Linked DNA regions of Homo sapiens. The gene in region 5 interacts genetically with the main gene of each other region. Each region holds a gene or a part of one and is shown on either strand. Other genes may lie near its edges. The genes, in order: RAB2A, TADA1, ATAD2, PTAR1, FASN, NOSIP and HTT.

Region 1 (3,500 bases), on a different chromosome or scaffold from region 5:
AAGTAACCATTCTACTGTAGCCAAACATCACAGAAAAAATTGTGGCTCTGCTTCCACAATCCCCAGGCAGTAATGAAGTAGCACCCTACCACCACCATTTCCCTTGTTGGAGTGGAGTGAGAGGAAGCCAACTAAACAGTGGTTTAAATAAGACCCAGAGTCTCATAACATAGTATCTAAAATACCCATGTTTCAATAGAAAATCATTCATCATACCTAGAACCAGGAAGATCTTAAATTGAATGAAAAAAAGATAATAGGTGCCAACAGTGAAATGACAGTGGTGTTTGAATTATCTTACAAAGATTTTAATGCAGCAATCATTAAAATGCCTCAACAAACAAGGAACATGCTTGAAACAGAAGAGTCTTAGCAAACAAACAATCTGAGCAAAAGAAATGCAAGATAAAAAAAAGAACCAAATAGGAATTTTAAAATAAAAAAAAATACAATAATTGAAATTTTAAAACTCTTTCAAAGCTCTTTGTACACTAGAAAAAAAAACTTAGTGAATGGACTCAACAGCAGAATGGAGATAAAGGAAAGAAATAGTGAACTGGATGATAGAACAATAGTAACTACTTAGTCTAAACTGCAGAGAGAAAATTGAGGAAACAAATGAACACTACCTCAGGGACTTATAGGACTGTAACAAAAGCTGACGTTATATGATGCATCATAAGTCCTAGAAGGAGAGGAAAAAGGAATGGCTCTGAAAAATACTCAAAGAAATAATGGCTGAAAACTTCTTAAATGTGGCAAAAAGTATATAAACCTACAGATTGAAGACAGCCCCAAAGAGGTTAAACCCAGACAAATCCACATGATGACGAACCTCTGTATGGTCAAATTTCTGAACGTGAAAGACAGAAAAAAAAATCTTGAAAGCAGCAAAAAATAGCACCCTACGTATAGGGGAAAAACAGTTCTAATGATAGCAGATTTCTCATCAGAAACCATGGAGGACAGAGAAAATAGCACAGTGATTTTTGTTTGTTTGTTTGTTTTTATTATACTTTAAGTTCTAGGTTACATGTGCACAACGAGCAGGTTTGTTACCTAGGTATATATGTGCCATGTTGGTTTGCTGCACCCACCAAGTAATCATTTACATTGGGTATTTCTCCTAATGCTATCCCTCCCCCAGCCCTTCAACCCCCAACAGGCCCCGGTGTGTGATGTTCCCTGCCCTGTGTCCAAGTGTTCTCATTGTTCAGTTCCCACCTATGAGTGAGAACATGCGGTGTTTGGTTTTCTGTCCTTGTGATAGTTTGCTGAGAATTATGGTTTCCAGCTTCATCCATGTCTCTGCAAAGGACATGAACTCAACTTTTTTATGGCTGCATAGTATTCCATGGTGTATATGTGCCACATTTTCTTAATCCAGTCTACCATTGATGGACATTTGGGTTGGTTCCAAGTCTTTGCTATTGTGAATACTGCCACAATAAACATACGTAGCACAGTGTTTTGCAAGAGCAGAAAGAAAAGAACTATCAGCCCAGAATTCTTTACCCAGCAAAGAAAAAAAAGAATTAGCAATGAAGGTGCAATCAAGACATTCTTAGAGAAGGAAAAACCAAGAATTTATTAGTAGCAGATTTGCATAAAAGAATGGCTAAAGGAAGTTTTCTAATAGAAGTGAAATGATTGAAGAAAGAATCTTAGAACACCATAAAGGAAGAAAAAAACATAAGAAACAAAAATATGGATAAATATGATAGACTTTTTTCTTCAAGTCTTGCAAATTATGTTTGATGTTTGAAGTATAAACAAGTAACCACTGTCTGATGTGATTATCAGTGTATTCCACAATATTATAAGCCATGGGGAATAAAGGGATTTGATTAGCCCACAGGAAGGCAGGAGAAGGAAAATAGAAAACAAAGTAAAATGTCAGATGTAAGCCCTCATATATCAATAACTAAATGTTGGTGGTCAAAATACACAAATCAAAAGGGATTAGCAGAGAGAATTTTAAAAACAATGACTTAGCTATATGGTATTTATAAGAAACTCACTCCAAATACAACAGTACAGTTAGGTTGAAAATAAAATGATAGGAAAAGTTATACAAATATTAATCAAAGGAAAACAGGAGTAGCTATATTAATATCACATAAACTTAAGGGCAGAAAAAAATTATCAGAGTGGGACATTATATAATGATAAAAGAATCAGCCCTCCAGAAAGATGTGACAGTGCTAAACATGCGTGTACCAGATATGTGAAGCAAAAACTGATAGACTGCGAGGAGAAATAGAGAAATTCACAATTACGGTTGGAGACTTCAGCATCCCTTAGGTGCTCACAGAATATATACCAAGATAGACCGTGTCCTGGGCCATAAAATAAACCTCAATAGATTTTAAAGTATTGAAATCATACGGAATGTATTCTCCAAACAAAATGGAATTAAACTAGAAATCAGTTTAACAGAAAATAGGAAAATCTACAAATACTTGGAAACTAAACAGTACGCTTCTGTGTGTCAGTGAGCAAGTCTTGAATTACAAAAAACACATTGAACTGAATGAAAATACAACATACCAATTTGTGGAAAATAGCTAAAACAGTGTTACGAGAGGGAAATGTATATCATTAAATGCACACAATAGAAAAGAAGAAGTCTCTTCCTTATACGTTATACAAAAATTAACTCAAGATGGATTAGAGATTTAAACATAAGACCTAAAACCATAAAAACCCTGGAAGAAAACCTAGACAATACCATTCAGGACATAGGCATGGGCAAAGACTTCATGACTAAAACACCAAAAGCAATGGTAACAAAAGCCAAAATTGACAAATGGGATCTAATTAAACTGAAGAACTTCTGCACACCAAAAGAAACTATCATCAGAGTGAACAGGCAACCTACAGAATGGGAGAAAAATTTTGCAATCTATCCATCTGACAAAAGGGCTAATATCCAGAATCTACAAAGAACTTAAACAAATTTACAAGAAAAAAACAACCCCATCAAAAAGTGGGCGAAGGATATGAACAGACACTTTTCAAAAGAAGACATTTATGCGGCCAACAAACATATGAAAACTCATTATTACTGGTCATTAGAGAAATGCAAATCAAAACCACAATGAGATACCATCTCATGCCAGTTAGAATGGCAATCATTAAAAAGTGAGGAAACGGCCGGGCGCGGTGGCTCATGCCTGTAATCCCAGCACTTTGGGAGGCTGAGGTGGGCGGATCACAAGGTCAGGAGATGAGACCATCCTGGCTAACAGGGTGAAACCCCATCTGTATTAAAAATATAAAAAATTAGCCAGGCGTGGTGGCAGGCGCCTGTAGTCCCAGCTACTTGGGAGGCTGAGGCAGGAGAATGGCATGAACCCAGGAGGCGGAGCTTGCAGTGAGCCAAGATCACACCATTGCACTCCAGCCTCGGCGACAGAGTGAGACTCTGTCTCAAAAAAAATAAAAGTGAGGAAACAACAGATGGTGGAGAGGATGTAGAGAAATAGGAACACTTTTAC
Region 2 (4,121 bases), on a different chromosome or scaffold from region 5:
AATAGCAAATAACTCATATCCAGCCTCCGTGCATAACCCTGTATGTTTTGCCTACCACCGAGGACCACACTTAAATAGGTTGTGCAAACCAAAGCAAACTGCTCATGGAGGAAATATAAGAAATGACTGTACAGTACAAGAGTATTACTGACTATTTAACCCAGAGGTACTTTTTAAGGAGAAGGGAAAAGAACAATGAGAGAATGGAAAAACAAATTTAGAACTATACGTTACCATTAACTGTTTCTGGCATAAAAATCTCTTTTGATTGCATTTTAGTGGGGATTCACACTCCAGATGCACCAAATTTAGCTTCAGCATCAGTATTTGACCAACATCAGACAGTCGGCTTTGGCCTTTAAAAACTAAATAAGGAATGCTAACTTCAAAAACACTTTTGGCAGCCCTGAACCTGTAACTGATGAGTATGGGATGACAGAGGTCACCATTGCATCTAATCAGGGTTAAAGGCAATCATACACAAGCCAGGTCCTTCAGATTTATTTTGGTATGTAAACGTTTGCTTTCAAATATTTGTAAGCATTCTAGATGGAACAGAGTGAAATGCCCCTTATGTGCTTAAAAATGTAAATTTTGGCTGGGCGCGGTGGCTCACGTCGGTAATCCCAGCACTTTGGGAGGCCAAGGCGGGTGGCTCACGAGGTCAGGAGTTCAAGACCAGCCTGGCCAAGATGGTGAAACCCCATCTCTACTAAAAATACAAAAATTAGCCGGGCGTGGTGGCAGGTGCCTGTAATCCCAGCTACTCAGGAGGCTGAGGCAGAGAAGTGCTTGAACCCAGGAGGTGGAGGCTGCAGTGAGCGGAGATCATGCCACTGCACCCCAGCCTGGACGACAGAGCAAGACTCCATCTCAAAAAAAAAAAAGGTAAATTTTATCAGTCGGTATTACAAAAGTAAAAAGCTACAGTAATTAGGGTGAAAGCTGTCAATTTTACCTATTAAAATAAGTAAGAATATTTAATTCAATAAGCACAGTGAACATCAATATCGAAAGACAATTTTCGGTGGTACACTATAGTCGGGTGTGGTGGCTCATGCCTGTAATCCCAGAACTTTGGGAGGCCAATGCGGGAGGACTGCTTGAGGCCAGGATTTGAGATCAGCCTGGGCAACACAGCAAGACTTTGTCTCTGAAAAAAAAAACTTTAGCCAGGATTAGCGGGGCGTGCCTACAGTCCCAGTTATAGGCTCACAGCAGGGGAGGATCTCTTGAGCTCAGGAGATCAAGGTTGCTGTGAACTGTGTGATCAGGCCACTGTACTTCGGCCTCTGCCACAGAGCAAGACCCCAACCCCCAAACACAAAGTGAAACATATCTCTGGGCGTAAATAAATGTTCACCAAAAATTAAATAATTATGCTAAAATAACAGTTTAGATTTTAATTTTAATCTTTTTATAGTTTCCATTATTATCTTGTTAGGATGAAAAGTAGACTGTCAACTCTGCCACCCCAAAATTTCACATGAAGGAAAAACTCCAAAATTCATGTATGACATCCAACCTAAGTAATTTCAATCCAGTAATAATAAAGAACAGAGAAGGATGAAAAGAAAGTATTGGAGAAAAATTAAGTATTCCCAAATTGCTCCTCCACCAACATCATTTAAAAGTATGCATCCACTGAGTAATGCAAATGTGTAGAATACCAGAGAAGCCATCTAGCAGCAACAACACAGGCACTGTAATTTTAAACGTTTATATTTGCTTCCTATATTTTTGAAAAATAAAGTTGTAATAACAACGTTTTGAAAATTTCCAAACTCTTCCTTGTATCCCAGAGGTTCCTTTTTTGCTCTTTGGCTTTGGCTTTGACTGGATACTGATTTTACCCTTGGCCATTCTGCACCTAACCTGACTGTGCACTAGGTCCCCTGCCATAACCTGGATGAAGGTCTGGCTGAGCGTCTCTGGGATCCTTTACAGCCCCTCTAATGCATCAGTCGGGAATCAAAAGCGTGGGTCCCAACTCTGACAGTGACTTTTGAAGAGTTACTTGTCCGCACTAGGTCTCAGTCTTCTCATCTGTCAAATGGGAATAACAACTGTACCTATCTCACATCTGTTGTAAGGATTAGATAATATATTTAGAGAGCTTAAAATGTTTAAAATGTCCGCTACTGCTATCATCACTATAATTGTAGTGTTCAATGACTGTGATTTCACCAGAGGGTCCGTCTGCCTTACGAAATTGCTGTCAAAAGAGCTTACCAATAATCCGTAGCAGATCACACCAGCTCAACAGGCCTCCACCTCCAGGAAGCCCTCCAGGGGCGGGCCGCCCTGCGCTATGCCCTCTGGCTGGACGCGTAGGGCTCCGGCTCACTCCGCCCAAGTCAGCCTCCCGCATCCCGCACGCCCGCGCTGGGGCCCGCACCTGCTCAGCAGGCCCTTGGGTGCGAAGTGCGCTTCTCCCGCCCCACCCAGGGCAGACAGTCCCGAGCAACGGCGCCCGCCGATGTCTCCCGGGCGCCCAGGAGGCCCGGTCTCTCCAGGGCGGTGAGTTCAGGTGGCCCGCCCCGCCCCGGCCGGAGAAACCCCGAAGCCCCGCCGCCGCGGACTCCAGGCTGCACAGGCCCCCGGGCGACGCGGGCGTCTCCGGGGCGGGCTGGCAGCCCGAGGCCAGGAGAGCACCCGCGTGTTGGCCTGGACGCTGTGCTAGGGCAGCTCTTACTGTTTCACGTTGTCCCCCAGGGCCTCGCTTAAGTTCTTCTTGGCCGCCTCCAGCTCGCTCACAAAGGTCGCCATTGCTCCGCGTGTCTCAGCCCGACCGCAGACCGCCCGGCCACCGCGATCAACAACCCAAAAACCAACTCGGCGGAAGGCCTTGGCTCTGGAAGCTAAGCCGGCCGCCGTCAGTCCCGCCCCCAATCTCTCAGAAGTCGTTTGTTTGGTTTTCGGCTCCGCCCGCCTTTTCGCAGGGAAGGTGCCCGGCCAAACTCTGCTCTCTTCCTCCCGCCCCTCGAGTCACGTGATCCGCTTCACCTTGTCGCGCGCCCATCCTAAACCCGCGCGCCCCGCCTCGGCTGCAACGTTGCTGACAGGCTGGCGTGTCCCAAGCTCTTTCATTCTGTTACCGCTGGGGCAATTCCGAATTCAGCCTGCTGTTCTTCTGCCTGGAGGAGTACCTTACCCCTCCATTTAAAAAAGTAAATGCAGTATCAGTTTTACTCTTTCCTTGCCTTATTTTTCCCCGAGCACTAACCGTCTCATATGACATTTAGTTGATTTATCTTGTAAATGTTATGGCTCGAGGACAGGAGTTGTGTTTTATTCACTGTTACCCGCAATTCTCTAGAGCAGCGCCTGGCACATAGTGGATGCTTAATAAGTATTTGAGTAAATGAGGTAACTATGTAAAATTTGGAAAATACACAGAAAGATAAAGATAAAAAGAAGGAAAAAGTGTTTTACCACTCCCGGACAAACACTTAACTGAGAGAGATTTCTCCTTCACTTCGCACACTCCCATGACTTAAAATATTCTATGTTCAATTTTGCACGTTTTTAAACTTAAGGATTTATCTGTAGTATTACATTGTCTTTAGAATAATTTTAATGACAACATATTAAATACCCCCACAGATAGAAGGTACACAACTTGTTTCCCAATTGTTAGACTGTGTCCATTTCTTCTCTATTAAAAAGCAATACTGTAATATTGCTTTTGAAGCATATAGCATAATGAAGCAAAACTTCTTTATGCATAAAACTTTTCCTCCTTTAGGATTATTACTTTAGCATAGAGTCCCACACATAGAATTACTGGATCAAATGATGGGAATATTTATAAATGCCTTGGTGTATATTGTCAAATTGCCTCCCAAAGTTTTTTAAATAATCCTAGATAGCTTTTAGATCTTGTGTAATTTCTCCAAAGATGTCCCCTTAAGTTCATTCATTCAACTTCCTCACTGCCCAACCTAAACCCACAAGCCCTGTCCTGGCTGCAATGCCAGCCGGGCACCTTCTCTTCACTTGAATTCATACAGTGAGCTCCTATTATGTGTCTGGAACTCTTTGAGTACTGGAGATACACAGGTGAAAGGAGATACAAAGGTCAGGCAAAGTCTTCCTCTCTGTGTCAAAACTCTGGGTAA
Region 3 (4,098 bases), on a different chromosome or scaffold from region 5:
TTTAGTTTCACATAATAAAATTAGTTAAAATGTACTTATACTATCATAAAATCCCCTGCAAAAAAACTTTGCTTTTCTCCTGTTAATCTAAATTGAGGTTAGTTTTTAATTTGTTTGTAGATGCTTATGGCTAGACTTAGAATTGGCAATCCCCTCAGCTCTAGTTTTTAGAATATGAGTTACTCAAGGTCAAGGCCAGGATTATAGCTAGACTTAAGTACATTTAAATGTCAGAGCCACTGCCAGAGGCTGCCCTGTGTCATCAGATGGCTTGGTCTACCCTCTGTCAGGCTTGTAATAATTGCCCAAACCTTCTAAATTAAGTATCTTGTCTGAGGAAGTTTCTCTCTCACACATATTGACACTCATATTTTCTTTTAGAATCTTTTGAAGACTGTTGTTAAAAAAAGTCAAAACTACAACATATTTCAGTTGGAAAATTTGTATGCAGTAATCAGCCAATGTATTTATCGGCATCGCAAGGACCATGATAAAACATCACTTATTCAGGTAAACTCTTGAGTGGAAACTTTTTACAAATGCTCTTGTGGTCACATTAATATATCACTTATGTAGGATTGTTGAGGCTTTATTTAATCTGTGTAAGAAACTGATTGTAGGAACTTAAAGACCATCTTTCTATTTCCAAAGTTGATGTCCCATTCCATAAAGATCATTTTTAATATGTGGATTATGAATTATTTCTAAATGCAAGTGAGTTTAGTATTTTTCCAATCTATAACTTAATTAGTTTGTTTGTTTATTTATTTATTTATTTAGAGACAGGGTCTCTGTCGCCCAGGCTGGAGTGCAGTGGTGCGATCTCAACTCACTCACTGCAGCCTCCACCTCCAAGGTTCAAGCGATCCTCCTGCCTCAGCCTCCCAAGTAGCTGGGACCACAGGCACCTGCCATCATGCCCAGCTAATTTTTGTGTTTTTTGTAGAGATGAGGTTTCACTATGTTGCCCACGCCGATCTTGAGCTCCTGAGCTCAAGCCATCCAGCCACTTCAGCCTCCCAAAGTACTGGAATTACAAACGTGAGCCACTGCACCCAGCCAATAGTTTGTGTCTTTAATAAATAGTGGAACATAAACTATGAATACCCCTTTTGTGTGTATGTATTAATGAAGAATAATAGCTTCTTTTAAGACTTGTCAGCCAGGCACAGTGGCTCATGCCTGTAATCCCAGCACTTGGGGAAGCCAAGGCGGGTGGATTGCTTGAGCCCAGGAGTTCAAGACTAGCCTGGCCAACATGGTGAAACCCCATGTCTACTAAAACAACAAAAACTAGCCAGATGTGGTGGTGTGCACCCATAGTCCTAGCTACTCGGGTGGCTGAGGCATGAGAATCACTTGAACCTGGGAGGCAGAGGTTGCAGTGAGCCAAGATCAAGCTACTGCACTCCAGCCTGGCTGACAGAGTAAGACTCTGTATGACAAAAAAAAAAAAAAAAGACTTATGTACTTAATCTTCCTTTATAGTAGGTATTATAGTGTTAATTAGAGCATTAATACTTATTTTTGAGACAGGATCTTTCTCTGTGTGCAGTGGCAAGAACATAGCTCACTATAACCTGGAACTCCTGAGCTCAGGCAATCCTGCCTCAGCTTCTCAAGTAACTGAGATTATAGGCAAGCACCACCACACTGGGCTAATTTTTAAATTTTTTGTAGAGATGGAGGTTTTGCTATGTTGCCTAGGATGGTCCCAAATTCGTAGCTTCAAGCGGTCCTCCCGCCTCAGCCTCCCAAAGTGCTGGCATTAACAGGCAGGAGCCACCATGCCTGGCCTTATTATTATTTTTAATAACAGATCATTTCACTAGAGAGTGCTAAATTTTAAAAAAAGATATTACTTACATATGCATATTATTGGTAACTACAAAATATAAAAATGATAACCATTAGTATATATATAGTATTTAGTATACCTACTAAAGTATACTATGTAGTATATATATAATATTGATACCTACAAAGTGTAAAATACTAAACTCTAACTACATCAGTACCTTGATTAATACTATTTGAATTTAACATAAGATGAATGCACCCCAGACTCATTTCAAAGTTATTTAAATAATGAAGTCCTACAGGTAAAATCTATGTGGCAGTCTTAAATACTGAACTGAATGTTTATTTTCACTATCAAATATATACCTGAATATTAATATTCTTAAGGTTGTTTACTGAAAAAGTAATGAAATGTTTCTTTAGCTTATTCCATATTGAAACTTACTATTTGCTCTTCCTCCCCTTTATCTAGAAAATGGAGCAAGAGGTAGAAAACTTCAGTTGTTCCAGATGATGATGTCATGGTATCGAGTATTCTTTATATTCAGTTCCTATTTAAGTCATTTTTGTCATGTCCGCCTAATTGATGTAGTATGAAACCCTGCATCTTTAAGGAAAAGATTAAAATAGTAAAATAAAAGTATTTAAACTTTCCTGATATTTATGTACATATTAAGATAAATGTCATGTGTAAGATAACTGATAAATATTGGAACTTTGCTAGAACAAGACCCTGTAGTAATAGTAATAATAGTTGAAGTTTGGCCAACTCTTAATAAAGTTATTTTGGTAACTAATGTTTTATGGCACTTAAGAATAATTAGCAGCGTTAAATTTTGTTTGTATTAAGCACTTTTAATTTTATCCTTCCTAAAAATAGTTTATTGTATCTGACAAGAAACTTACTTAACCATTGTGTCCTTCCCATCTTTTTTGTCATCTTTGTTTTCTTCAAATGCCCTCCTCCCATCTGCCTTGAGATTCCCTCGTCTTCACTTAAAAGCCAGAGTGCAAGTCATGATTTGCGGGAGGGCTCTTGAACCACTTCTGGCTGCACCACAATTCTGTACTTGAGTATCACAGTCATTGTTTTTGAGACAAACATTTTTATAATTCTAATTTGGGTTAATAAAGATTTTAAATATTTCTTGGTTTACTTTTGTAATTATATACACAACAAATGTATTAATAACTACCTTGTTAAACACCTTTTAATAGCACAAGGTTTTTATATTTGCAAGCTGTTGATATCTTTCTAAAACTGTTTAGGTTATAGTCTATTGATACTTTTTATATACAATTTTATAAATATAAATATTATAATTTTATATTAATGGTACCAAAAATACATTTCTTAAGGTTAAAAGCATGCACTTCCATGCATACTTGCTTTTGGGGAGAGTGGGGAGAAGACATTCTAATAATCAGTTTGTGAAATAGCTTCTGTTGGAAACCTTTTGAGGGGAATAAGGAATGGTCATCTAAAATGAGAGATTCTGGATTTTAATGCAGTTCAAAGTTGAGCTGTATTTTTGTTGTTGATTTATCTGGATTTTTTTTAAAGCCTTCTAAAACCCAGTGAATTCAATACCTTAATTAGTACATACTATCTTATGTAATGCATAAAGCAATGCCAGTCACTGAGAACATTTAAATATATTTATATTCCTGGAGATACACATTCTCATTTTTGTTGGTTTATTATAAATTATTCTTCTAGATGCATCTTTTATAACTAGGATTTCATTTTGTGTGTATAGCTTATGTAATAAATTTTAAAGGTGAAAACTCTCTTAAATTTGTTTCTATTTCTTAAGTATTTTAAAACATAGCAAAGATAATTCTGTGCAAAAGAAGTGTAAAGTCTGTTCTTTCATATATTACTGTGAAAATTTAAAGTGCTGTTGACACTGGAATGTTTTTATATGGTACATGTATTTTAGGTACAACGACTAAAGTGCTTCCTGAAATGTCTTCTACAGATTTTAGAAGTGTTATGTCTACATTCCTATGTAGAGTTTGAAAACCATGCTGAAATTGCAGTGTTGAATGTTATCTCCCATTTGTTGCTCAAAAGTGCAGTTAACGCAAGAAAAACAAAAGGAACTCAGAAAGGAAAAAGTGAAATTCTCTTTATTTACAAATGCCATGATTTTATATGTAGGAAATCCTTTTTTGAGACAGAGTCTTGCTCTGTCGCCTAGGCTGGAGTGCAATGGCATGATCTCGGCTCACCACAACCTCTTCCTCCCAGGTTCAAGCGATTCTCCCGCCTCAGCCTCTTGAGTAGTTGGGACC
Region 4 (2,993 bases), on a different chromosome or scaffold from region 5:
GATGATATTTGTAAGGGAGGATAATTTATCAACTTTTTCTAATAGAATGCTCCTTGAATCAATATCTGCCATATGAAATTATATGACAAGTAAACCTCAAATTTATTACCTATCACCTTATAATGATAAATAAGCAATCTAAAGTATGCTGCATAGTACCTTGAGGAAAGTGACTGCTATACTTAAAATTAAGGCTGATTCCTAAAAGGTATGGAAGAAAAGCCAGAATGTTATTGTTTGTAAACCACTAAAGACTTAATATGAACAGTTTACATAACTATCTGGTTAATTTGGGCAAATGAGCACTTGTGTTTGGTTTCTAACTTTGCTGGAAGGTGTTGGTCTAATAAAGAAAACTGCTTTAAGTAGGAGCACTTTTAGCATACACAAAAATAAAAATCCTTTGTAAATTTCACTTGCAATGTTGTGCAACTGTATATCTTTGCCTTATGCATTTGAAACTGATTATGTATTTTATGCAAAATGGTATATTTTTCCCAAAGCTAAGAATATGGACAATGATGATATGATAGCTAAGCTAGTTTTATCTTTCTAGCTTTTATCAACTCTTGACTTGTTGAATTCCTACAATGTGCAAGGCAGTATGCAATGTGTTGAACATATATGAGGTCTACACATAAAACAAAGGGAAACTGAAGTCTTTGGAAGCAAAATAGTTGTCAATTTGAAAACCAACGGTAATCATTTTCCTCAACAGTATTTCTAAAAGTTGAGAATGATGTCAACTAAAACAAAATACAATCATCCCCACCTCTACCAAAGATGGAACTATAACACAGAAATCATTTCCACAGAAGACACGAGAATGTTCATACTAGAGCCATAGGGACCAAAGCAGCAAGATAAACAATGAGGCAGTCACAGAATATCTACTAGCTACTGTACTGGTAATAGTTTATAAAAAATACGATCTATACTAAAATTTAAGAGCTAATAATATATTTAGCATATTTTTGCCTTTTCTTTTTGCCACTGAATATAAAATTTGTCCTGAATTTACTAAATCTTCTACACCCTGAGGAATAACAACAGACTAATAAAAGTAACGTCAGGGTTAGCTTTCTGGACAATAGAATCATCCAGAAAGCACAAATTATATATAGCTAATATTCTTGGAAGCACAAGGTTTCATCAGCAGACTAAACTACTGCCCTGTATTGTTCTTAGCAAAGAGTTTGGTTTTACAGTGTTAACATGGCCTGGTGAGAGTAGAGAAGTCAAAGTTGGGAGCCTGAGGTTTCCTCTCCCACCTGAGATCCACAACTGATTCATTGGTTTTCTGTCTTCACCATGAACATGGCATATTGCTGCCCTTTAGGAATATATTATTCAACAGTTCTCTGTAAAAGCACTTTGGAATCTTTAGCTATATATTTCTATGAAATTATATTTGCTATCTTGAAATATGGAATTCCTATCCCTCCCTTCTCCATATACAAACAGATAAAATGATACATTTAAAATTTCATCTACGCATTTACTTCTTTTCCTCCAATACCTGAGAGAAAGCAAGTACTGTTTTCCCCCTTTCAACTATATTACATTATGCCTGAATTTGAGAGGGAAGGAAGGTCCTAAAGTAAGGCAAAGGATTCATTTAGGACAACGTTCTGGCCTTTATTTTAGGGCAGAGTGCCACTGTTTCCCTTTGGACGCAGGTTTCAGGCTAATCTATTTGTGCACACACCATCCTCTAAATGGGATGCCTCCAACCCCCAAAACGTTAGTTGCCAGAAAGAAAGAACTAAATCTTGGTAGGGTGCTTAAAATGATAACTAATGGAATAATCAAAGCATCCTGCCTGCTTATATCAGTCTCTCACTGAAGGATAAAATACCCTACGGGGCCATGCCTAGCGATGGGAATAAATAAAACAATGGGCCACAATCAACTGTTTGATAAAACTTCCATCCTGTTTTCTTAAACATTAAATATAATCTTGCTCCCAAAAAAGTAAGAAAGGCACTCGAATTAACACAGTCTCTACAGTTATTTTTTAAAAGACACTATGTGACAATAAGGAATTCTTAGGGTTGATTTTTCTTCATTAACTTCTCAGTGCCTCCACACATCTCTCCATTAAATGGGAGCTTATTACAGAGCATACCTAGGTATGGGGAGGCAGCAACACATAAAGTGCTAGGGTTTGCACAGTTCTATTTGAGAAATTTATTCAAGACAAAAGGTTCAGTTGTTATCAGGTTCAAATTTTCTAGCATACTTTAAATATCTGTAAGTTTTAAAATATAATTTTCCAGTAGCAAAATAATAGTTAGCTTAAAACAGCTTTTTAGAAAAAAAAAATCATGTTACTTCCCTTTACAACTAAATCTTTAGCATCTTCTATAACTCAGGGGAACTAAGGTAGGGATTATTAGATTGTTGTACAGTAGGTGGTATCTGCCATCTTGTGCTATGTAAGAGAAAATTATTAAACTGACAATTTGTTTGCTTCAATACTAAAAATTCCTTTTACACACACATACATGTGTGTGTGGCCCAACAAGAATAAACTGGCATGACCTGAACATACCTAAGTGGCATACGATCTACTATGTATTTGCTTTCCTGCAAACTACTGCATAAAAATCCAAAAACTTTTGTTTCCGTATCTTGTATCACATAAGCCCTTATTTAAAAATTTAAGTACTTTTAGAGATAACCTGTATATATTTAACCCTACTAATAATTAAGCCTTTAAGTGAGAACTGTACCATAGGAATAAGAAATATGACTGAAAGTCTGGGCCCAGAGTTTCTTAAGAGGTAATAAAATGCTAAAATCTACAGAAGACAAAGGGGACATTAATACATATCAAATCCCTAAGCTTAAAAAATGACTCATACAGATTTAAGAAATATCTGAAAGAGTCACAGTTCAAGTTGCGGGGAAAAAAGGAGAAGCATAAAATGATATGTGCACAGGTACAGATCAGTAAGTCACTGAAATCAAAGAATTTCTTCAGATGATTA
Region 5 (3,500 bases):
GGCTGCTGCGGGGCCTTCGGGTGCAGTCTCCCGGGAGGGGCAGGGCAGTGTCGGGGGCTCACCCTCCTCCAGCAGGAAGTGGCGGAAAGCCCCCCAGGCCCCGTCGCGGTAGACGTTCATCACCAGGTCTCCCTGCAACACCTTCTGCAGTTCTGCGGAGCCCGGGTCCACCTCCGGGACGTGGGAGGTGCTGCTGAGGTTGGAGAGCAGCACACACCTGGGGGCAGAGGCGGGGAGCTCAGGCTGGGGATGGGGAGGCTGGTGGGGAAGGGGAAGTGGTGAGGGGCCGTGCTCCTACCGGAGGCGGTTCCCGCCGGGCTCTCGGCGGAGACAGTTCACCAAGCCCACCACGCCCGAGGTGGCACAGTTGATGGCCTTCAGCCACACAGGCCGGGAAGAGTCTTCGTCAGCCAGGATGCCCTACAGCGGGTCGGGGAGGGTCAGGCCACACTCGGCAAGTTGGGAGGTGGGGTGGGGCCTGGAGGTGGGGCAGGGCCTGACCTTCAGAGACTCCACCCAGCGGAAGCTGGTATCGTCCACCGGCAGGAAGATGGGGCTGTCCTGCGGGGTGGGCCGGCGGCACAGGAAGAGCGTGGAGCCGTAGAAGGACTTCTTCAGGCCCACCAGGCGCAGCGACACCCTGGAGAAGAGGCTCTCCCACGCGTCCTGTGGGGGCGGTGGTCAGCACCCTGCCCGCCTGGCCCTCACCCGGCCCCCACCCTGTCCCCCTGCCCGGCGGCCGCACCTGGCTCAGGATGCCCTGGCCATACTGCGGCTCAGTGGAGGTGAGGAAGGCCACGATGTCCCCGAGGGGGTGCCCCCGGAGCAGTGTGTGCAGGAGCAGAAAGCCCCCTTCTCTCAGGGCAGCCACCATGTTGCTGAGAGCTGAGGCCGGGTCCCCGAGGGCAGCCACAGCACAGTTGCACACCAGGAGGTCGGCGCTGCCCAGGGCGCTGGGGGCAGGGTCTGCGGGATCCCACTGGCCCTGGGCAACGTCGTGCTGCTGCAGCTCGGCCTGGGCAGCCTCCAGGGCCTGGGGGTGGCGGTCGGTGGCCGTGTAGCTCAGCTGCAGCAGGGGATGGGGGCTGAGCAGGCCTGGGATGCGGGAATACAGGTGACCGTGGCCAGCCAGCACCTGTAGGGGGTGAATTCTGGAATCAGCCCCACACCAGGCAGGTGCCCCTGACCTGGGGCTGGGCAAAATGTCCATGAGGCCTCAGTCTGGCAGAAAGGCTTCCCCGTCAACCTGATGACGGTGCCAGCCATGGGCACGCATGGATGCCACTGGTCTTGTCCCTGGGGTCCTGCCTAGGCTGCACCTCTTGGAGCCCACGGGCGGACCCTCCACGGTGGCTGTGTGGACCGCACAGGACACGTGCACAGAACCACACAGGGAACTGGCCGGCCCCACCCACCGCCCAGGGCCCGCCCCGTGTCTGTGCTGTCTCCTGCAACTGATGTCAGGGTGGGTCCTACCATGTCCGGGGCAGAGGCCTGGCTGCCCAGGAGGCACCCACCTCCACCACCTTCATCTTCAGGCTGGGCATGTTCTCCACGGCAGTGTCCAGGCAGGCCTTGAGTGCCGGGGAGTCCAGGAGGCCGCTGAGCAGAGGGTCCTCTGGCAGCTTGGGCCTCTCCTGGGCCAGCACCTGCGCCAGCTCCAGCTGCAGGTTCCCGTTGAGCTGAAGCCTGCAGGCAGCCGACAACAGCCGGGGCAGTTCCTGCTGTGAGGGGTCCCGGGGGATCTGGGCCCCATCCAGTCCGGGCACCACCATCTTCAGCCCCTGCTGGGTCACCTTGGTCTGCAGTGCCTGCACCAGCCCTGGGGAGGGAGGGAGGCAGGCCTGGTGTTCCCAAAGCCCCAGGGCATCTGCCTGGCATGGGCTCTCAGACCCACTCTGTCCTTCTGGGGCCACCACCCCGCTCTGCCCACAGGATGAGAAATAGCTGAGGGTTGAGGAAGGGGCTGCCCACCACTGGGAGGCTGACTCCTGCCCACTGTGGACGCAGTGAGGGGCCGCATTCAGCTGCAGGGGCTACTCTGTGCCTAGCCAAGGTGTGACCTTAGGCTGAATCTGTCATCTTTGCCCCCAAGTACCCTTTCAAGACTGAGGAACAGTGACCAGGGACGAGGAAGGCTGGGGGCTGGGGGAGGGAGGGAGGCCGCCATCGTGAGCTCCGGCCGGAGGGTTGGGCTAGGGTTGCTGACCCCAAAGGGGGCCCCGTGGAGAAGCAAGTCTGGGGTCAACGTGAGGGGAGGCGATCGCTCCTCATCGCCAGAGGTGTCCGAAGCCAGCAGGGCTGGGACCTCACCCTTGCACAGTTGCAGCTCCTCCTGCAGGGCAGCGCGCTCAGACAGGCACCCCTCCTCCGTGTGGGGAGTGAAGCAAAACTTCTCCAGGATGGGCACCTGCTGCTCCTGCTGCCGCCGCGGGGCCGACTCAGTGTGGAGCCCGGAGATGTGGACGCCTCCGGCCACTGTGACCCTCAGCCACCTGCTCACCACCACGTCAGCCACTGTGGGGACAGGCTGGGTGAGTGCGGCATACTTGGGTGGGGGCACTGGGCTGGGGCTGGGGCGGGGCTACCTTGGGCCTTGTCCTGCAGTGTGTACAGCTTCTGCCTGTGGGTGGCAGGGTCGATGTGGATGGCGGTGACACGGGTGGGCAGGTACAGGCCGTGCTTGGCCGAGCCCAGGATGGACATCTGCAGCATGGTGTCCATGAAGCTCACCCAGTTATCCTTCCACAGCAGCCTCCCCGAGTCACCTGCACACAGGGCCTGGTTGGTGCTGTGGAACTCCCAGGTCCCTGGGGCCACCTCCCAGAGCCCACCGGGCCCCTCTGCTCCCTCCCAAGCTGCATGCCTAGCTGTGGGTGCCCTCTGTGGTCCCCACAATGACGACCGCCCTCCCCGGTGGCTTGGGCAGCAGTGTAGTCAGTACCCACCTTCCAGGCTGGCCTCCAGGATGCCCTGGAAATGAGGGCCGTAGTCGTAGCCACGCAGACGCAGCTCCTTGTAAACTTCAGCCTGGGCCAGGAAGAGGGGCTCCGTGGGGTTGGGGGTGGGGCTTTCCGGGTGGTCGAAGAGCCTGGGGTCAGGGTCATCCCACTGGTACACCTTCCCTGTGGAAAGGGAGGTGCGGAAGGGCCTGAGGACGGGCGGCATGGCCAGCGGGCACAGCCTCCGCAGCTCCCGTGCCACCGGCCCTGCTTACCACTCACTACCAGGTTGCCGTTCTCTGACACCTCGAAGGCACGGGAGGCCTCCAGGAGCCGTACCTCCAGGGACACTGTCCCTGCAGAGCGGGAGAGTTGGAGATCAGAGGGCAGCACCCGCCCCCCAGCTACCCCCGCCTTGGTCCTGGGGTACCCCTCACCAGTCTTGGGCAGGATGGTGGCCTGGTGCAGCACCACATCCTCAAACACCACAGGCAGCTGCTCGACGCCCAGGCCCAGGGCGCGGGCCAGCGTCTTCCACACTATGCTCAGGTAGCCAGT
Region 6 (3,500 bases), on a different chromosome or scaffold from region 5:
ATGTGCCCCCTGAGGCAGCCAGGGCTGCTTGCAGAAGGGCGACCTTGATCAAACACCCCAACTTGACCCAGGGTCCCCTCCACATGCCAGGCTCCTCCTCCGACTTCCCCCTGACCCCCAAGCTTCTCAGTGAACGTCCAACACCTGTTGCCTCCCCTCACCTGCCATCCGCTCCCCAGCCCCCACAACTGCCACTCATGAAGGTCACGGTGACCTTTTCATGGACACATTCCCCACTCTATTCTTAGTTGTCAACTCCCTTGACCCTCTGCAGTATTTGGCTCTGGGCACCTCGGCTTTCCCAGAGATGAGCTTGCTTGCTGTTTTGTGGCCAAGAACTGAGGTTTCTACATAGATGGGGACATTTTCCCTCCAAAAATAGGAGGAACACCTATAGAGGGAGCATTTAAACTTTTTTTAATTTAATTTGTTTTTTTTGAGATGGAGTCTTGCTCTGTTGCCGAAGCTGGAGTGCAGTGGTGTGATCTCGGCTCACTGCAACCTCCACCTCCTGGGTTCAAGCAATTCTCCTGCCTCAGACTCCCAAGTAGCTGAGATAACAGGCGCCCACGCCCAGCTAATTTTTTTTTTTTTTTTTTTGTATTTTTTAGTAGAGACAGGGTTTCACCATGTTGGCCAGGCTAGTTCTGAACTCCTGATCTCAAGTGATCCGCCCACCTCAGCCTCCCAAAGTGCAAGGATTACGGGCATGAACCACTGCACCCGGCAAACTCTTTGATTTTTAAAACTCAGTGATTTTTAAGATCCTGAGACCAGAAAGCGTGAGCGCCTCCAACCAAGGGTGGAAGAATAGCCAGTTTCAGGATTTACAAACTCTGAAAGCTGAGCTCTCCTGCCCCACACTATATTGTCTCTTTGGTAGGTCCAATTTCAAACTACAAAGCAGACTGCTGCCATCTGCTGTCACCAGCATTTCAGAGAGGAAACAGGCAAAGAGCAGGAGCGACCGATGTCAGCATAATCCCTACCTCACAGCACAGGAAACAGGCTCACAGCATGTCCCAGCTGGGAAATGGCAGAGCTGGGACTCAGACCCAGGCAGCCAGGCTCTGGAGCCATTCCTTTTAACTAGGTGACAACTGTCAGTTTTCCTAGGAAAGTCACAATCTCAGAAAAAAGGCCAATCAGGCTGGCCACGGTGGCTTAAACCTGTAATGCCAGCACTCTGGGAGGCTGAGACGGGTGGATCACAAGGTCAAGATGTTGAGACCATCCAGGCCAACATGGTGAAACCCCATCTCTACTAAAAATACAAAAATTAGCTGGGTGTGTTGGTGCGCGCCTGTGGTCCCAGCTGCTCGGGAGGCTGAGGCAGAAGAATCGCTTGAACCCAGGAGGTGGAGGTTGCAGTGAGCCCAGATCGCACCACTGCACTTCAGCCTGGCGACAGAGTGAGACTCTGTCTCAAAAAAAAAAAAAAAAAAAAGCCAATCCATTCCTTTATTTGTAGCCTTTGAAATCCAGAATGTATTTTACTCTTTCAGCACATCTCAGTAATTTCAGTAATTCAGATGCTAAATTTTCTTTTTTTTTTCTTTTTTTTTTGAGATGGAGTTTCGCTTTTATCACCTAGGGTGGAGTGCAGTGGTGTGATCTCGGCTCACTGCAACCTTCACCTCCCCGATTCAAGTGATTCTCCTGCCTCAGCCTTCCAGGTAGCTGGGATTACAGGCACCCGCCACCATGCCTGGCTAATTTTTTGTATTTTTAGTAGAGATGGGGTTTCGCCATGTTGGGCAGGCTGGTCTCGAACTCCTGACCTCAGGTGATCCACCCGCCTCAGCCTCCCAAAGTGCTAGGATTACAAGCATGAGTCACTGCACCCAGCCTTTTTTTTTTTTTTTTTTTTTTGAGACAGAGTCTCGCTCTGTTGCCCAGTCTGGAGTGCAAAATAGTGCAATCTTGGCTCACTGCAACCTCCACCTCCAGGGCTCAAGCCATTCTCCTGCCTCAGCCTCCCAAGTAACTGGAATTCCAGGCGTGTGCCACCATGCCCAGCTCATTTTTGTATTTTTATATTTGTATTTTTAGCACAGATGGGGTTTCACCACATTGGCCTGGCCATCAGATGCTAAATTTTCATTGGAGATACTTTAAAATATATATATATATATGGCTGGGAGCAGTGGCTCACGCCTGTAATCCCAGCACTTTGGGAGCCCAAGGCGGGCAGATCACCTGAGGTCAGGAGTTCAAGACCAGCCTGGCCAATGTGGCGAAACCCTGTCTCTACTAAAAATGCAAAAATTGGCTGGGTGTGGTGGCAGGTGCCTGTAGTCCCAGCTACTCGGGAGGCTGAGGCAGGAGAATCGCTTGAACCTGGGGGCAGAGGTTGCAGTGAGCCAAGATCGGGCCACTGCACTCCAGCCTGGCCAACAGATCAAGACTGTGTCTCAAAAAAAAAAAAAAAAAAAAAGCCCGGCTCTGAAGCAGACCCTGGCTCTAAGCATTTTACTGAATATCATAACACCTCAAACGGTCGAATATCACAACACTCCACTGAATATCACAGCACCTCAAATAGTTGCTATAAATGAAGAGAGGCACAGAGGCGGTGCCCTAGGTTATGCAGCTAGTGAGTCCTACAGCTGTGTTTGATCCAAGCACCTGTGGCTTTGACCATCCACTGTGCCAGCTGGCTGCAGGCGGCCTCAGGCACTGTGCTGAACTCTGGGAGTGGATCAGACAGCTAGTGTGTGTCTTGTCCTCCCCTGAAATCCTGTCTCCTTTCTCCTCCAGAGCACTGCCAAGGTTTGCCTCCTCCAAGAAGCCTGCCTCTCCGGGATCAGTTAGGTTCTCCTTGCACTTGACCGTGCCCTGAGCTACCTCCGTTACAGCCCGTCCCTCGGTATTTCGGCTCCAGAGTAGGGGCCCTGGTTGGTGGGGCCTGGGTTGAACTTCAGCCTGGGTCCCAGCATTGCCTGGCACCTGGGAGGTCTCAGAGATGTCATGATAGAATCAATGAACCACCTCCAATCCTAGGGCCAGGGGAGGTGGGTTAGCAATGAACTAACCATGCAGCCATGACATCATGCCATTAATACACTAATAATTCATTAGTAACATGTGAATCACAGAAGCACTGGAAGAACAGAAGTAATCATCACATCCTTCAACCCCTTAAGAATCAGACCTTGTGGGAAGCACTTTCCACATGTGAACACATTCGGTCCTCATGACAACCTCCCCACGTTCTGCCCATTTATTTTATTTTATGTATGTATGTATGTATGTATGTATTTATTTTGGAGACAGTCTCACTGTCACCAGGACTGAAGTATTTTTTTTTTTTTTTTTTTGGAGACGGAGTCTCACTCTGTCACCCGGACTGGAGTGCAGTGGCACGATCTTGACTCACTGCAACCTCCACCTCCCAGGTTCAAGTGATTCTCCTGCCTCAGCCTCCCAAGTAGCTGGGATTACAAGCACACACCACCATGCCTAGATACTTTTTTTGTATTTTTAGTAGAGACGGGGTT
Region 7 (3,500 bases), on a different chromosome or scaffold from region 5:
CTCAATTATCAAACATAGCCAGTGTGAGTTCTGAAATAAAGGTGCTGATTGAATGTGCAGCTTTATGGTGGATTTTGCTATTCAGGCAAGCATTTTAATTTTCTGCCTGTTAAATTCTGTTTTCTTTAGTTTTTCATATGTGGTTTATTGTAGCTTAGGAATAGATAACTGAGAGTATATATTACACATACAACATTCTGATATGGCAATATTTAAAACAACTTGTCTGTTTTAGAACTAGAATTAAACATAATCATCTTCAGTATTTTGCAAATAAGCTCACTGCCATCCAGAAACATTGTCAATGCATCTGTTGCTCCTTCTAGAAGACACAGTCTGTCCAGCACAAAGTTACTTAGTCCCCAGATGTCTGGAGAAGAGGAGGATTCTGACTTGGCAGCCAAACTTGGAATGTGCAATAGAGAAATAGTACGAAGAGGGGCTCTCATTCTCTTCTGTGATTATGTCGTAAGTTTGAAATGCCTGTAAACGGGGTTGAGGGAGGTGGGGACCAGGAGAACATCCTGTGTAGATGACACTTGCATGGACCCTCTGGAACCCAGACCGCCCGGTGTCCTGCCAAGCTCCATCGAAACTAAATCTAGAATGAATGTTTACTTCTGCTGTGACATATAATTGGAGACCAGGCCTGGCCTTCCAGTCACTGGATTCTAAGTTGGACTGTGAGAGTTTTTGCAGCTGACTCATTTATCAAATGCCCGGCTATTGGCTCACGCCTACATGATGCTGGGTATGTTTGTTAATTTGAGGGAAGCAATGGAATAATAATAACTAATGATTTAAAAAACAAAGTAAGTGCATTGACTGTAGTGGGGTTCTGATTTTAAATTTTTTTAAAAATTAATACCAGGAGCAGTGGCTTATGCCTAAATTCCAGCAACTCGAGAGGCTGAGGTAGGAAGATCACTTGAGCCCAGGAGTTTGAGACAAGCCTGGGCTATGGTGTGAGACACCCATCTCTAAAAAAATAAAAAATAAAAAATTATCCAAGTGTGGTGGCTCGTGCCTGTAATCACAGCTCTTTGAGAAGCTGAGGGCGGAGGATGGCTTGAGCCTGGGAGTTCGAGACCAGCCTGGCAACACAGAGAAACCCTGCCTCTACCAAAAAAAGAAAGAGAGGAAGAAAGAAAAATTAGCCTGGCGTGGTGGTGCATGCCTGTGGTCCCAGCCACCTGAGAGACTGAGAAGGGAGGATTGCTTGAGCCCAGAAGTTTGAGGCTGCAGTGAGCTGTGACTGTGTCACTGCACTCCGGCCTGGGTGACAAGGCGAGACCCCTGCTCTAAAATAATTTTTTTAAGTTAATTTGTAGAAAAGGTGTTAGATGTTCTTTGTCACATTTTATGATGGATTCCTGTTTAAATGCCGTTCTCTTTAAAGAAAAAAAAATAACTTGTGGGAGTTTTTAACCATAAAACTAGCATCACATATTTACCATGGAGAATTTACAAAAAAACAAATAAACGGAGGAAAATAAAACCTCCTGTAATCATACTACTCAGAGATAACTTGCTGTTAGATTTTGGTCTAGATTTAATACTTTTTCTATATTTATATTAAAAATATTTAAAACATATGCATTTCTTTGTCACAAACATGGTATCTTATAGATACTACTGTCACATAGCAAAACAGTGTTAAATATTCTGAATCAGAAAAGGAAGCCGACTCTCCAACTGAAAGAGGTGTTATCCTAGAGACTTTTTCTGGTGATGACAATTTATTAATAGTCACTTTTTGCTTTACTTTCTCTATTGAAGTAGTTTTTCTATTTTGTTCTACTTTTAAGGATAATATAATTTATAATGCTGTTTTTCACAGAAATATAAGAAAAAAGATACTAATTTTATAAGTTAATAAAGTTTGATCATCCCAAATCCAAAAATCTGAAATCCAAAATGCTCCAAATTCTGAAGCTTTTTGAGTGCTGACATTATGTTCAAAGGAAATGTTCATTGGAAGGTTTCAGATTTTCGGATTTAGGGAGCTCAACAAATAAGTATAATGCACATATTTCAAAACCTGAAAAAAATCCTAAATTCAGAATACTTCTGATCCCAAACATTTCAGATAAGGGTTATTCAACCTGTACTGTCAGATGATCCCAAATGAAAAATATTAATCGTTAACCAAATATCAAGGAATTGATCACATTTTACAGTTTCTGCCTAGGATTATGAATCAAGATGAAAAGGCTCTGCATGTTTAAAAATATATATTTTTATTTTCTTATAAATCTTAAATATCTACACTTAAGATTTATTTGATATGTGGGATCCATTCATATTTTGGATTCAACAGTTCTGTCAAAACTGTGGCAGTGATAGGGGATTCTTTTTTTCCCACTGAACTATCACAAAATTGGAAAAAGAGTAATTGGAGAACCCCACTGGCTTAGCCGGCCCGAAGCCCGGGAGAGGGCAGGCAGTGCTGTGGATGGGGTCATCCCAGCGCAACGCTGCCCCTGCTACCTGCGGATCTCGCTGAGGCCTGCCTTTGTCCTTTGACCCTTGGCCATTTGTTAGTGTCTCTGAGAGCTGGACTGCTGTACCCTACTTCCCCAGGGGGCCTAACTTCACACAGCCTCTGCCGCAGTGCGTGGTTGGAGGTGACGGCCTTGGTAAATCGAGTTTCCTACCTCCTCAATTATTTGTGCTCATACACTGTATATTTTTAGTGAGGTTTATATTTGGGATGTGTTTTCTCCTTCTTACCCTTTCTGGCCTTTCTATGGCATTAATACCTGGTCTCTTCTTGTGTACTTGAAAATGAATCTCTCATCATATTTTTCCTTAGTGTCAGAACCTCCATGACTCCGAGCACTTAACGTGGCTCATTGTAAATCACATTCAAGATCTGATCAGCCTTTCCCACGAGCCTCCAGTACAGGACTTCATCAGTGCCGTTCATCGGAACTCTGCTGCCAGCGGCCTGTTCATCCAGGCAATTCAGTCTCGTTGTGAAAACCTTTCAACTGTACGTCTTCATCCTGCCGACTATTGCCAGTTGCAGTTTTCCCTGCCTTAAAAATGGAGTATTGAAATTTTTAACTTTAATTTCTGATTTGCAAAATAGTCATCTTTTGTTCTTTTCCTTCTTGCTGTTAGCCAACCATGCTGAAGAAAACTCTTCAGTGCTTGGAGGGGATCCATCTCAGCCAGTCGGGAGCTGTGCTCACGCTGTATGTGGACAGGCTTCTGTGCACCCCTTTCCGTGTGCTGGCTCGCATGGTCGACATCCTTGCTTGTCGCCGGGTAGAAATGCTTCTGGCTGCAAATTTACAGGTATTGGGAAGAGAAACCCTGATATTGATTTATATTGAAAATTTAGCAGGCCAAGCAAAACAGGTGGCTGGCTTTTTCCTCCGTAAGTATGGTCTTGACATGGTCACCGATAGAAACATGGAAACATCTGCAAACTTGCCGTTACTCGTGTGTCCGATCTGACTGTTTCTTGTATTTTTTTCTAGTCTGCCCTTACT

What was found.
Region 1: changes in FASN (region 5) and RAB2A together harm fitness more than expected from each alone (negative genetic interaction), as found in Homo sapiens cells (one large-scale study listed by BioGRID).
Region 2: changes in FASN (region 5) and TADA1 together harm fitness less than expected from each alone (positive genetic interaction), as found in Homo sapiens cells (one large-scale study listed by BioGRID).
Region 3: changes in FASN (region 5) and ATAD2 together harm fitness more than expected from each alone (negative genetic interaction), as found in Homo sapiens cells (one large-scale study listed by BioGRID).
Region 4: changes in FASN (region 5) and PTAR1 together harm fitness more than expected from each alone (negative genetic interaction), as found in Homo sapiens cells (one large-scale study listed by BioGRID).
Region 6: changes in FASN (region 5) and NOSIP together harm fitness more than expected from each alone (negative genetic interaction), as found in Homo sapiens cells (one large-scale study listed by BioGRID).
Region 7: changes in FASN (region 5) and HTT together harm fitness less than expected from each alone (positive genetic interaction), as found in Homo sapiens cells (one large-scale study listed by BioGRID).

The regions. Positions count from the first base shown.
Region 1 is NC_000008.11:60,593,487-60,596,986, forward strand, and holds part of RAB2A (ras-related protein Rab-2A), read left to right. Parts: intron 1-3,500.
Region 2 is NC_000001.11:166,873,465-166,877,585, forward strand, and holds the start of TADA1 (transcriptional adapter 1), read right to left. Parts: upstream 2,801-4,121; 5' UTR 2,770-2,800; coding exon 2,696-2,769; intron 1-2,695. UniProt on the Homo sapiens protein: Probably involved in transcriptional regulation.
Region 3 is NC_000008.11:123,319,350-123,323,447, reverse strand, and holds the end of ATAD2 (ATPase family AAA domain-containing protein 2), read left to right. Parts: intron 1-381; coding exon 382-510; intron 511-2,272; coding exon 2,273-2,314; 3' UTR 2,315-3,598; downstream 3,599-4,098. UniProt on the Homo sapiens protein: May be a transcriptional coactivator of the nuclear receptor ESR1 required to induce the expression of a subset of estradiol target genes, such as CCND1, MYC and E2F1.
Region 4 is NC_000009.12:69,712,019-69,715,011, forward strand, and holds part of PTAR1 (protein prenyltransferase alpha subunit repeat-containing protein 1), read right to left. Parts: 3' UTR 1-2,993.
Region 5 is NC_000017.11:82,084,737-82,088,236, forward strand, and holds part of FASN (fatty acid synthase), read right to left. Parts: coding exon 3,380-3,500; intron 3,299-3,379; coding exon 3,218-3,298; intron 3,126-3,217; coding exon 2,949-3,125; intron 2,769-2,948; coding exon 2,589-2,768; intron 2,518-2,588; coding exon 2,314-2,517; intron 1,823-2,313; coding exon 1,518-1,822; intron 1,136-1,517; coding exon 746-1,135; intron 667-745; coding exon 502-666; intron 421-501; coding exon 299-420; intron 218-298; coding exon 63-217; intron 1-62. UniProt on the Homo sapiens protein: Fatty acid synthetase is a multifunctional enzyme that catalyzes the de novo biosynthesis of long-chain saturated fatty acids starting from acetyl-CoA and malonyl-CoA in the presence of NADPH.
Region 6 is NC_000019.10:49,570,557-49,574,056, forward strand, and holds part of NOSIP (nitric oxide synthase-interacting protein), read right to left. Parts: intron 1-3,500. UniProt on the Homo sapiens protein: E3 ubiquitin-protein ligase that is essential for proper development of the forebrain, the eye, and the face. Catalyzes monoubiquitination of serine/threonine-protein phosphatase 2A (PP2A) catalytic subunit PPP2CA/PPP2CB.
Region 7 is NC_000004.12:3,203,681-3,207,180, forward strand, and holds part of HTT (huntingtin), read left to right. Parts: intron 1-326; coding exon 327-468; intron 469-2,815; coding exon 2,816-2,995; intron 2,996-3,126; coding exon 3,127-3,303; intron 3,304-3,500.